Homo sapiens: one gene and its partner. The protein of the gene in region 1 interacts with the protein of each later gene in a pairwise test. Each region holds a gene or a part of one and is shown in the gene's direction. Other genes may lie near its edges.

What was found.
Region 2: the proteins of GAN (region 1) and NUDCD3 interact in binary tests that used the Homo sapiens proteins (3 or more experiments, as listed by UniProt).

What each region holds. Positions count from the first base shown.
Region 1 is NC_000016.10:81,359,876-81,363,626, forward strand, and holds part of GAN (gigaxonin), read left to right. Parts: intron 1-2,623; coding exon 2,624-2,736; intron 2,737-3,751. UniProt on the Homo sapiens protein: Probable cytoskeletal component that directly or indirectly plays an important role in neurofilament architecture.
Region 2 is NC_000007.14:44,379,036-44,382,786, reverse strand, and holds the end of NUDCD3 (nudC domain-containing protein 3), read left to right. Parts: 3' UTR 1-3,668; downstream 3,669-3,751.

The sequences.
Region 1 (3,751 bases):
GTCTCTCTCAAAATATCTTACTTTACTGAACTCACCTATTTTCGGACTGCAGTTGACCATGGGTGATAAAACCACAGAAACCAAAACTTCAGATAAGGGGTAGCTACTATATACACAATATGTCTTTTTTTGATATATGTTGGATGGATGGATGGATGGATGGATGGATGGATGGATGGATGGATGGATGGATAGATGGATGGACAGACAGATAGGTAGATAGATGATTGATAGACAGGCAGGTAGGTAGGTAGATAGTGTTCATTTAGATTTGCCACTTTCTTCGTTCTTCCTTCTTAACTCCTCAGACTTTCCACCTAGGATCATCTCCCTTCTCTCTGAAGTTCATCCTTTTGAATTTCCTTTAATATGGGTCTTTTGGTGGACAACTCTCAGATTTGATTGCCTGCAAATGTCATTATTTTGTCTTCATTCGTAAAGGATATTTTTGCTGAGTATAGCATTTCAGCTTTGGTATTTATCATTTTTCAGCACATTGAAGTCATTCCACTGACTTCTGCCTTCCATTGTTGTGAAGTCAGTGGCAAGTCTAAAAAATCTCTTCTCTGGTGTGTATTTAAAATTTTCTTATTATTTTCCATCTTTTTGTCTCACTGTGCTGTTTTCTTGATTATTATCTTTTGATTTATCTTCTTTTCTCCTTAACTCTGATTAATCTGCTATTACATTTATCCATTGATTTTTTTTTTTTAATTTCTACAAATTCTTGTCTTTTTACAGGAGAATAACTTAATCCACCATTACCTTCAAATCCTCTCTTATTTCTATAGTTCCCTGTTACCTGGAGTTATCTTCCAGTTAATTTTTATTTTTTAAACATGATAAGCATTTGTTTAAATTATCTTTGTTTTTTAAATAAATTTTAGACTTTATTCTTCATCACCCAACTTGAAAAAAATCATCTTTCTGGTTACTATAATATTTGAAATCTTTGCAAGACTACTTCCTATGATCTGCTTCTGCTGGTCTTTTCTTAGAGTCTAATTTTTGGTATGTCTGATATCTGTGGCTGCATGCTGCTCATTTATTAAACATTATTTGTAGCAGCCGGGCGCAGTGGCTCACACCTATAATCCCAGCACTTTTGGAGGCTGAGGCGGGTGGATCATTTGAGGTCAGGAGTTTGAAATCAACTGGCCAACATGGTGAAACCCCATCTCTACTAAAAGTACAAAAAGTAGCTGGGTATGTGGTGGCATGTGCCTGTAATCCCAGATATTCAGGAGGGCGATGCAGGAGAATCGCTTGAACCCAGGAGGCAGAAGTTGCAGTGATCTGTGATTGCACCACTGCCCTCCAGCCTGGGCGACAGAGCAAGACTGTCTTTAAAAAACAAAAAAAATCAAAAAAAAATTATTTGTAGCAATAACTTTCTGCCTTAGATGTCCTGGGATGTTAGAATCTAAGGCTTAGATTAAGGTCCTTCTACAGAAGTTTTGCATTTGTTTCTGCCAGTTGACTGAAAACACTACTAATTTGGTATTAACTGTAAGTTAAGTTCAAGGCTCATGATTTCCCAGATAGCAAGGAGATTTAAATCTGAGTACGAATTCTGGTTGGCCTTCATCCTGACAGTGTAGAACTTTGGAGAGGATCTCCTGCCAGAAGCCACGTTTTCTGTGGACCTGGAGCTTAAACTTCTGTCTTTTTCATCCCCAGGACAAAAGGTTTAAATTTTCCTAGATTAGAAATGCCCTCAGTGTAAAATGGTTTTCATGCTTGATAACCTCTGTAGGTCCTAATTTTCCCTTCAGTTTTGCCTTGTTATCTTGTTGGCTTCTCCTCTTCTAAGAAGATTATTATTGTTGTTATTTTTGAAACAAGATCTCACTTCGTTGCCCAGGCTGGAGTACAATGGCATGATCACAGCCCACTTCAGCTTCACACTCCTGGGCTCAAGCGATCCTCCCATTTCAGCCTCCTGAGTAGTTGAGACTATAGACAAATACCACAATGCCCGGCTAATTTCATTATTTTTTGTAGAGATGAAGTCTTGCTGTGTTGCCTCCTATGAACCTCCTGGGCTCAAGCAGTCCTTGTAGCTTGGCTTCCAAAAGTGCTGAGCCACCACCACCCGGCTAAGATTATTTTTTAAATGTTTTATCCAGCAAATTGTTTTTTGCAGAAGAATAACCTAATACGCCATTACATGAAATCGGAAGTTCAGTTGCTCTTAGATCCTGTTTTGAATAGAAAGTGCACACGGATGCCTCAGATCTGGGTATTCCTGGGGTCTAGAATGAACAGATGTGCGCTGCGGTGCAAAAGTTGTATGAGAATCCCAGAGGCTGAGAGGGAACAGAAGAGATGAATTGAGATGGCCCAGAGTTGCCTGGTGACTGAGCGGGTGACGCCAGGCTTCCTTTTTCATTGTAGGGTGGTGGAAATCCCCTCAAAGACAGTAATGAGTAAAGCAAAATGGTCAAAGTGATGGTTTGGCTCCATCACCAAGGATCCAATGGGATGTGATAAAAGCCCTGAATCCAAAGAGAACATTGTTGTCATCAGAGAGTTTCTTCAGATGCTGTTTCTATATATGCTGTGGCGTTTATGGGTGTTGAAGACTCACATTTCATATTTGTGTTTCCTTTGATCTTTGCAGAAGGATTTTTGTTTGTATTCGGGGGCCAAGATGAAAATAAGCAGACTCTTAGCTCAGGAGAAAAGTATGATCCAGATGCAAATACATGGACAGCATTGCCACCTATGAACGAGGTAAAACACTAGTTGGTTGGTTTGTTTGATGTGTTTCTCTTTCCCCTTAGCGCTTCTGTTTGTTTTGTGTCTGAGTTCAGGGAAGAAACGGCAGCCTTGTCAAGCCACCTGCCTCATTCGCTCCAACCTCTCCTTCTAGTGCCCGGCTCTCCTCCCCTTCCTGGCCCTCACTCCTTCTGGCCTCCATGAGTTTCTGAAATCTTCCAGGAATGCCCTCACCCCAGCCTTCACATTTATCCTGCCCTGTGCAGATGCCAGCGTGGCCTGCCCCCTCCTCGCAGCACCTTCTCAGCGGGCCTCCCTCCTGCCTCTTAGCTTTCCTGTCCCCGTCTTCGTACGACGTCTCACCATCTCACGGACCAGGCATTTAAAGTTTTTCACATAAGCTCTTTGATGGCAGAGAATTACATGTGTTCTGGTCAGTATTTCATTTTCAGCACTAGAATCGTGCTTGGCACGTAGGGTTTACTACATAAATATTCATTGACAAACGGACATGAAACACCTAGGGCTTCTATGATCCCAAATAGCCTTGGCCTGACCCTGTCCTCCACAGCCCTTTCTGCCATAGTTTATACTAGCCTTTCCCACGTCAACTTGAAAACACTGCCCTTTGTTATGCAAAAATAATTGTATTGAACCAGAGGTAACAGTTCATTTTCTTGTTGTGAGCTATTATGGGTTAAAAAGTGAGGATTTTCTGATGAACTCACCATGTATTTCTTAAGTTTGTTTTGAGAAGTGGCTTTGGCCTCTCTGGCTGTTGTGCTGGAAGAGTGGGCTGTTAGGGAAGCCAGAAATCTTTAAGAAGCATTACCGGAGAAATGGTTTTGAACGTGGTACTTCCATGCTGGAACACTGGGAAAAAAGATTTCTCTAATTTTTAAAAATAGTTTCAACTTTTATTTTAGACTCGGGGATACATGTGCAGGTTTGTTATGTGTGTATATTGCATAATGCTGAGGTTTGCAGTAAGATTAATCCAGTCTCCCAGGTACCAAGCGTCGTACCCAAT
Region 2 (3,751 bases), on another chromosome or scaffold:
AAATCTGCTCTCCACTGGGCCTGTTGGCAGCCAGCTCAGCTGGGGAAGGGACAGCATGACTCGCTTTGTCGATGAAAAGCACGAAGTTGTCAGCACAGAACCTGGCCAGTCCTTGAGAAACTCCCTCCTTGGTGGTCAGAGGTCAAGCAGCCCATGTGGCCCACGGTCCTGAAGAACTGGGCTATGTCCCTGAGGCTCCTCTCTACCGTCTGACTGTGGGGTCTGGGGAACAGGCATTTAAACCAGGCTGCTGCCCTGGGGAGTGCCCACTGGACGCCAGGGTGCCCCATAGGGACAGGGTCACAAAGCCCTGGGGCTTCCCCTGCCAGTCCTGGTGAGGACAGTGTGGTCACTATCTCAGAGAGACGAAAAATGAATATTCTGTCATTTCAGACTAAACTACTCACCCAGCTCACACTAATATGGATTTGTTAATTTTACCTTTTTTTTTCTTTCCAACTTTAGGTTCAAGGGTTGTTACATGGGTAAATTGGATCATAGGGGTTTGGTGTACAGATAATTTTGTCACCCAGGTAATCAGCATGATACCTGATATGTAGTTTTTCAGTCCTCACCTTCCTCCCACTCGGTTTTATTTTTTAGTACTGAAAGTTTAACAGATTGGTCTTACCTCAGAGGGAGGGAAGAAACCCCCCCATCGCTGGGCTCCTTGGTGTGACAGGGGTCTGGTAGGGGTTTTCAATCCCACCACCCATTCCTCCACACCAAATGCCTGAAGTCCCCACTTTGCACAGGGAGACAGCATCGTGCCAGGGAAGAGAGGTCAGGCCCGGCTACCCCTCACAACTTCCTGCTTCCCCCTCAGAGGGTGATGGGGAGACCAGAGCCCATGGCAGGATGAACTGTCACTGAACCCAGCTGGCACAGGTCTGCCAGAACACTCTGGGGGTATGCGCTGGGCTTTCTGGGTAAACCCCTGGCAAGCTGGCGTTTGCTGTCTTCTCAGTGCTGATGGAGATAGGCACACATGGGGTGTGGGAATGTGGCCACCCTCAGGCAGGTTCACGAGGGTACTGTCAGGCGCTCAGGTGTATGCCGCCTCCTGTCAGGCAGGGCTGAGGCTATTCTCCCTGGAGAAGGACAGCTTAGGAAACACTTGCAGGAAAGCTGCCTGGACCTGGGAGGTGACCCTGGCCAGCCTCCCTGCTGCCTCTCTCAGTCCTAGGCCTTCTTCCCCAGAGCTGGTCAGGGCCTGAGGGACTTTGTAGTCTAACCCCTCATTGTGCTACAATCACAGGAGTAAGTAACACTCCCAAGGCCATGTGGCTGGTGACTCGGGGGGCCCAGGTCCAGGATCCTGCCCCATCTGCAGGCCAGTGGTTCCTTGTCTCCTATTTGCTTCTTGGAGCAGCCTCCTCATAAGCCAACAGCTCCTTCACCTGAGCCCAGTCACTTTGCGCTCCTCCCCAGAACCAAAGAGCAAGACCATCTGCCCCAGGTACAGTCCTGGCCATGCCACACTCTCTGTGGCATCATGACCAAGGTGAGTGGCAGATACTGAAATCATCCAGGGCCACTGCAGGCCCCATTCCCAGTGGACTGTTCATCAAGGGACCCTGTCTCAGGCCATCTCAGCCAACCTTGTTGCCCAGCACAGGTCTGGCACATTGGAGATGATCTGTGTTGGATGGGGAAGGCAGAGGGAGGATCCTCCAGCATTGATCACCCATCAAAACCCTCAACAACCCAGACATTGCCGCTGCACTGACCCCATGCTATGAGGAGGTCACTCAGGCTGTTAGGAGCCTGCTGACTCAGGCATTGGGCTGGGGCCCTGCCTGCCTTGTCTGCCTGCCAGCGGAGCACTGCCCCAAGCCCTTCTTACTGCAGAGACAGGCTCTTGCCTCCCAGTGTGCACTTTGTGCAAGACACAGGCAGGTAAGGGTCTACCAGAGGACAGGAAGTGTTGTTGGGGCACTGTGGGGTTTGGAGGAGGCCCCTCTAGCAGGGAAAGCGAGCCCTAACCTCTGCTGGACTAGGGAGTTTAGGAAGCTGCTCTGGTTCAGGGAACTGGGGATCCAGATAACTGGGGATCAAGGCCATCTTGTGACCCCAGTGGTGGTCCCTAGTGGGACTGCTGAGCTCCAGCCTGAGAGTTCATGAACTCAACAGTGATTGCTTGTGGGTACTAATGACCCAGTGTGTGGAGACCTCATTTACCAGGTGTGCCTAGCCTGCAGGCAAATCCCAAGGCAGTGACCCTTAGGGAAGAGACAGCGTTTGGGGTCATCAAAGGCTGGGAAACCCAGGTACCTGTCAGGGAATGGGCTACAGACTGGAGCTAAGCCTTAAGGTGGGGAAGATTCCAGCACCCCTGAGTGACCACCTCTTTTGGTAATGCAAAGAAGGGATTTTGTGACTCCAGGGTGACATTTCTAAGCTTGGCATCATGCAGGGTGGGCTTGGGCTCAATATGGGTGACTGTTAGTCTAGGGCTGTCTCAATGAGGCTGTCCAGGCAGAAAGGCTTACACACCTGGCAGGCAGAGGGTCTAGAGAGGAAGGGGCAACAGGCCTAAGGAGGGGACAGCCAGGCAAGGAGGTAGAATAGGCCTTGTCTGGACAGTGGTCACCTGTTAGGTCCACAGCTTGTCCTCCCTGGCCTGACCAGCCAGGTGAGGAGAGATCCAAACCATCCACCTGAAAGCATTCAGGGTGCCTGATGACAAGACCCCAGCCACTGTGGGCTCTCATGTCCTGGTAGGAAGGTATACCTAAAGCAGGTGGACCTGGTAGTGGTGGACGCTGTCTGCCTCCCCGGGGCTTGTCTGTTTATGCCAGACCGTTTTCCCATTTGCTTCCACCTCCAGCTCAGAGAGGAATCACCTTCACACCTCTGCTAAAACTAACCCAGCTCTGCACCCACCATTCCCCACTGTGCAACACCTGCTACTGGAGAACCCTGCCCCCTCAAATACACGTCATCCTCAGGGCCCTGCGATGTGCTGTGGTCTCCCTGCCACCATTCAAGGGGCCACAGCCAGGTCCAGCCTGTCTTCCCTGGCACCAGGCTCTATGCAGTGGGGGAAACTCGGGCACCCCTAAACTATTCTCCAGTGTTCTCACCAGAGGTGGTCAGCCATGTGATGGCAAGAGTCACTTCTTAAGCTTTTGCTATCCCCAGAAACTTAAAGCAACACCAACCACACCCAAAAGTCAAGTGATATCCAGACAGCAACAGTAGAGCATTAACTGAGTGCAGGGCCGTGGTGACTCCTCGACACTCCAGGCTCTCCTGCTGGTAACCTCCCATTGGCAGAGCCAGGCACTCAGCAAAGCCCTGGACAGTCAGCAGCCTCCTGAACAGGCTCTGCTGTCCCCACTCACGACTTCAGAGCAGCTAGGACTCCTGTGACCACCCCTGTCCCCTGTTCCCCCCCACCCCGCCCCGCCCCGCCAACTGCCTCATCTCTGTCCCAAGATAACTGCTCTCCAGAATTTTCCATGATATGGTCATTTTAAAAGTTTTTTTTTTTTTTGAGACAGAGTTTTTCCTGTGTTGCCCAGACTGGACTCAAACCTCTGGGCTCAAGTGATCCTCCTGCTTCAGCCTCCCAAGTAGCTGGGACTGTAAGTGTGCACCACTGTGCCTGGCTTGATGGTGTCATTTTTCACTGTACGTGTATTTGTAAACCGTATAAATCAGTATCTTTGTGAGTTGCTTTTCTTTCTCCCTTACCTTCATGAGCTGTCTGTGTCCATACACAGTCTCCTCTGCTCCCCTAGGTGGG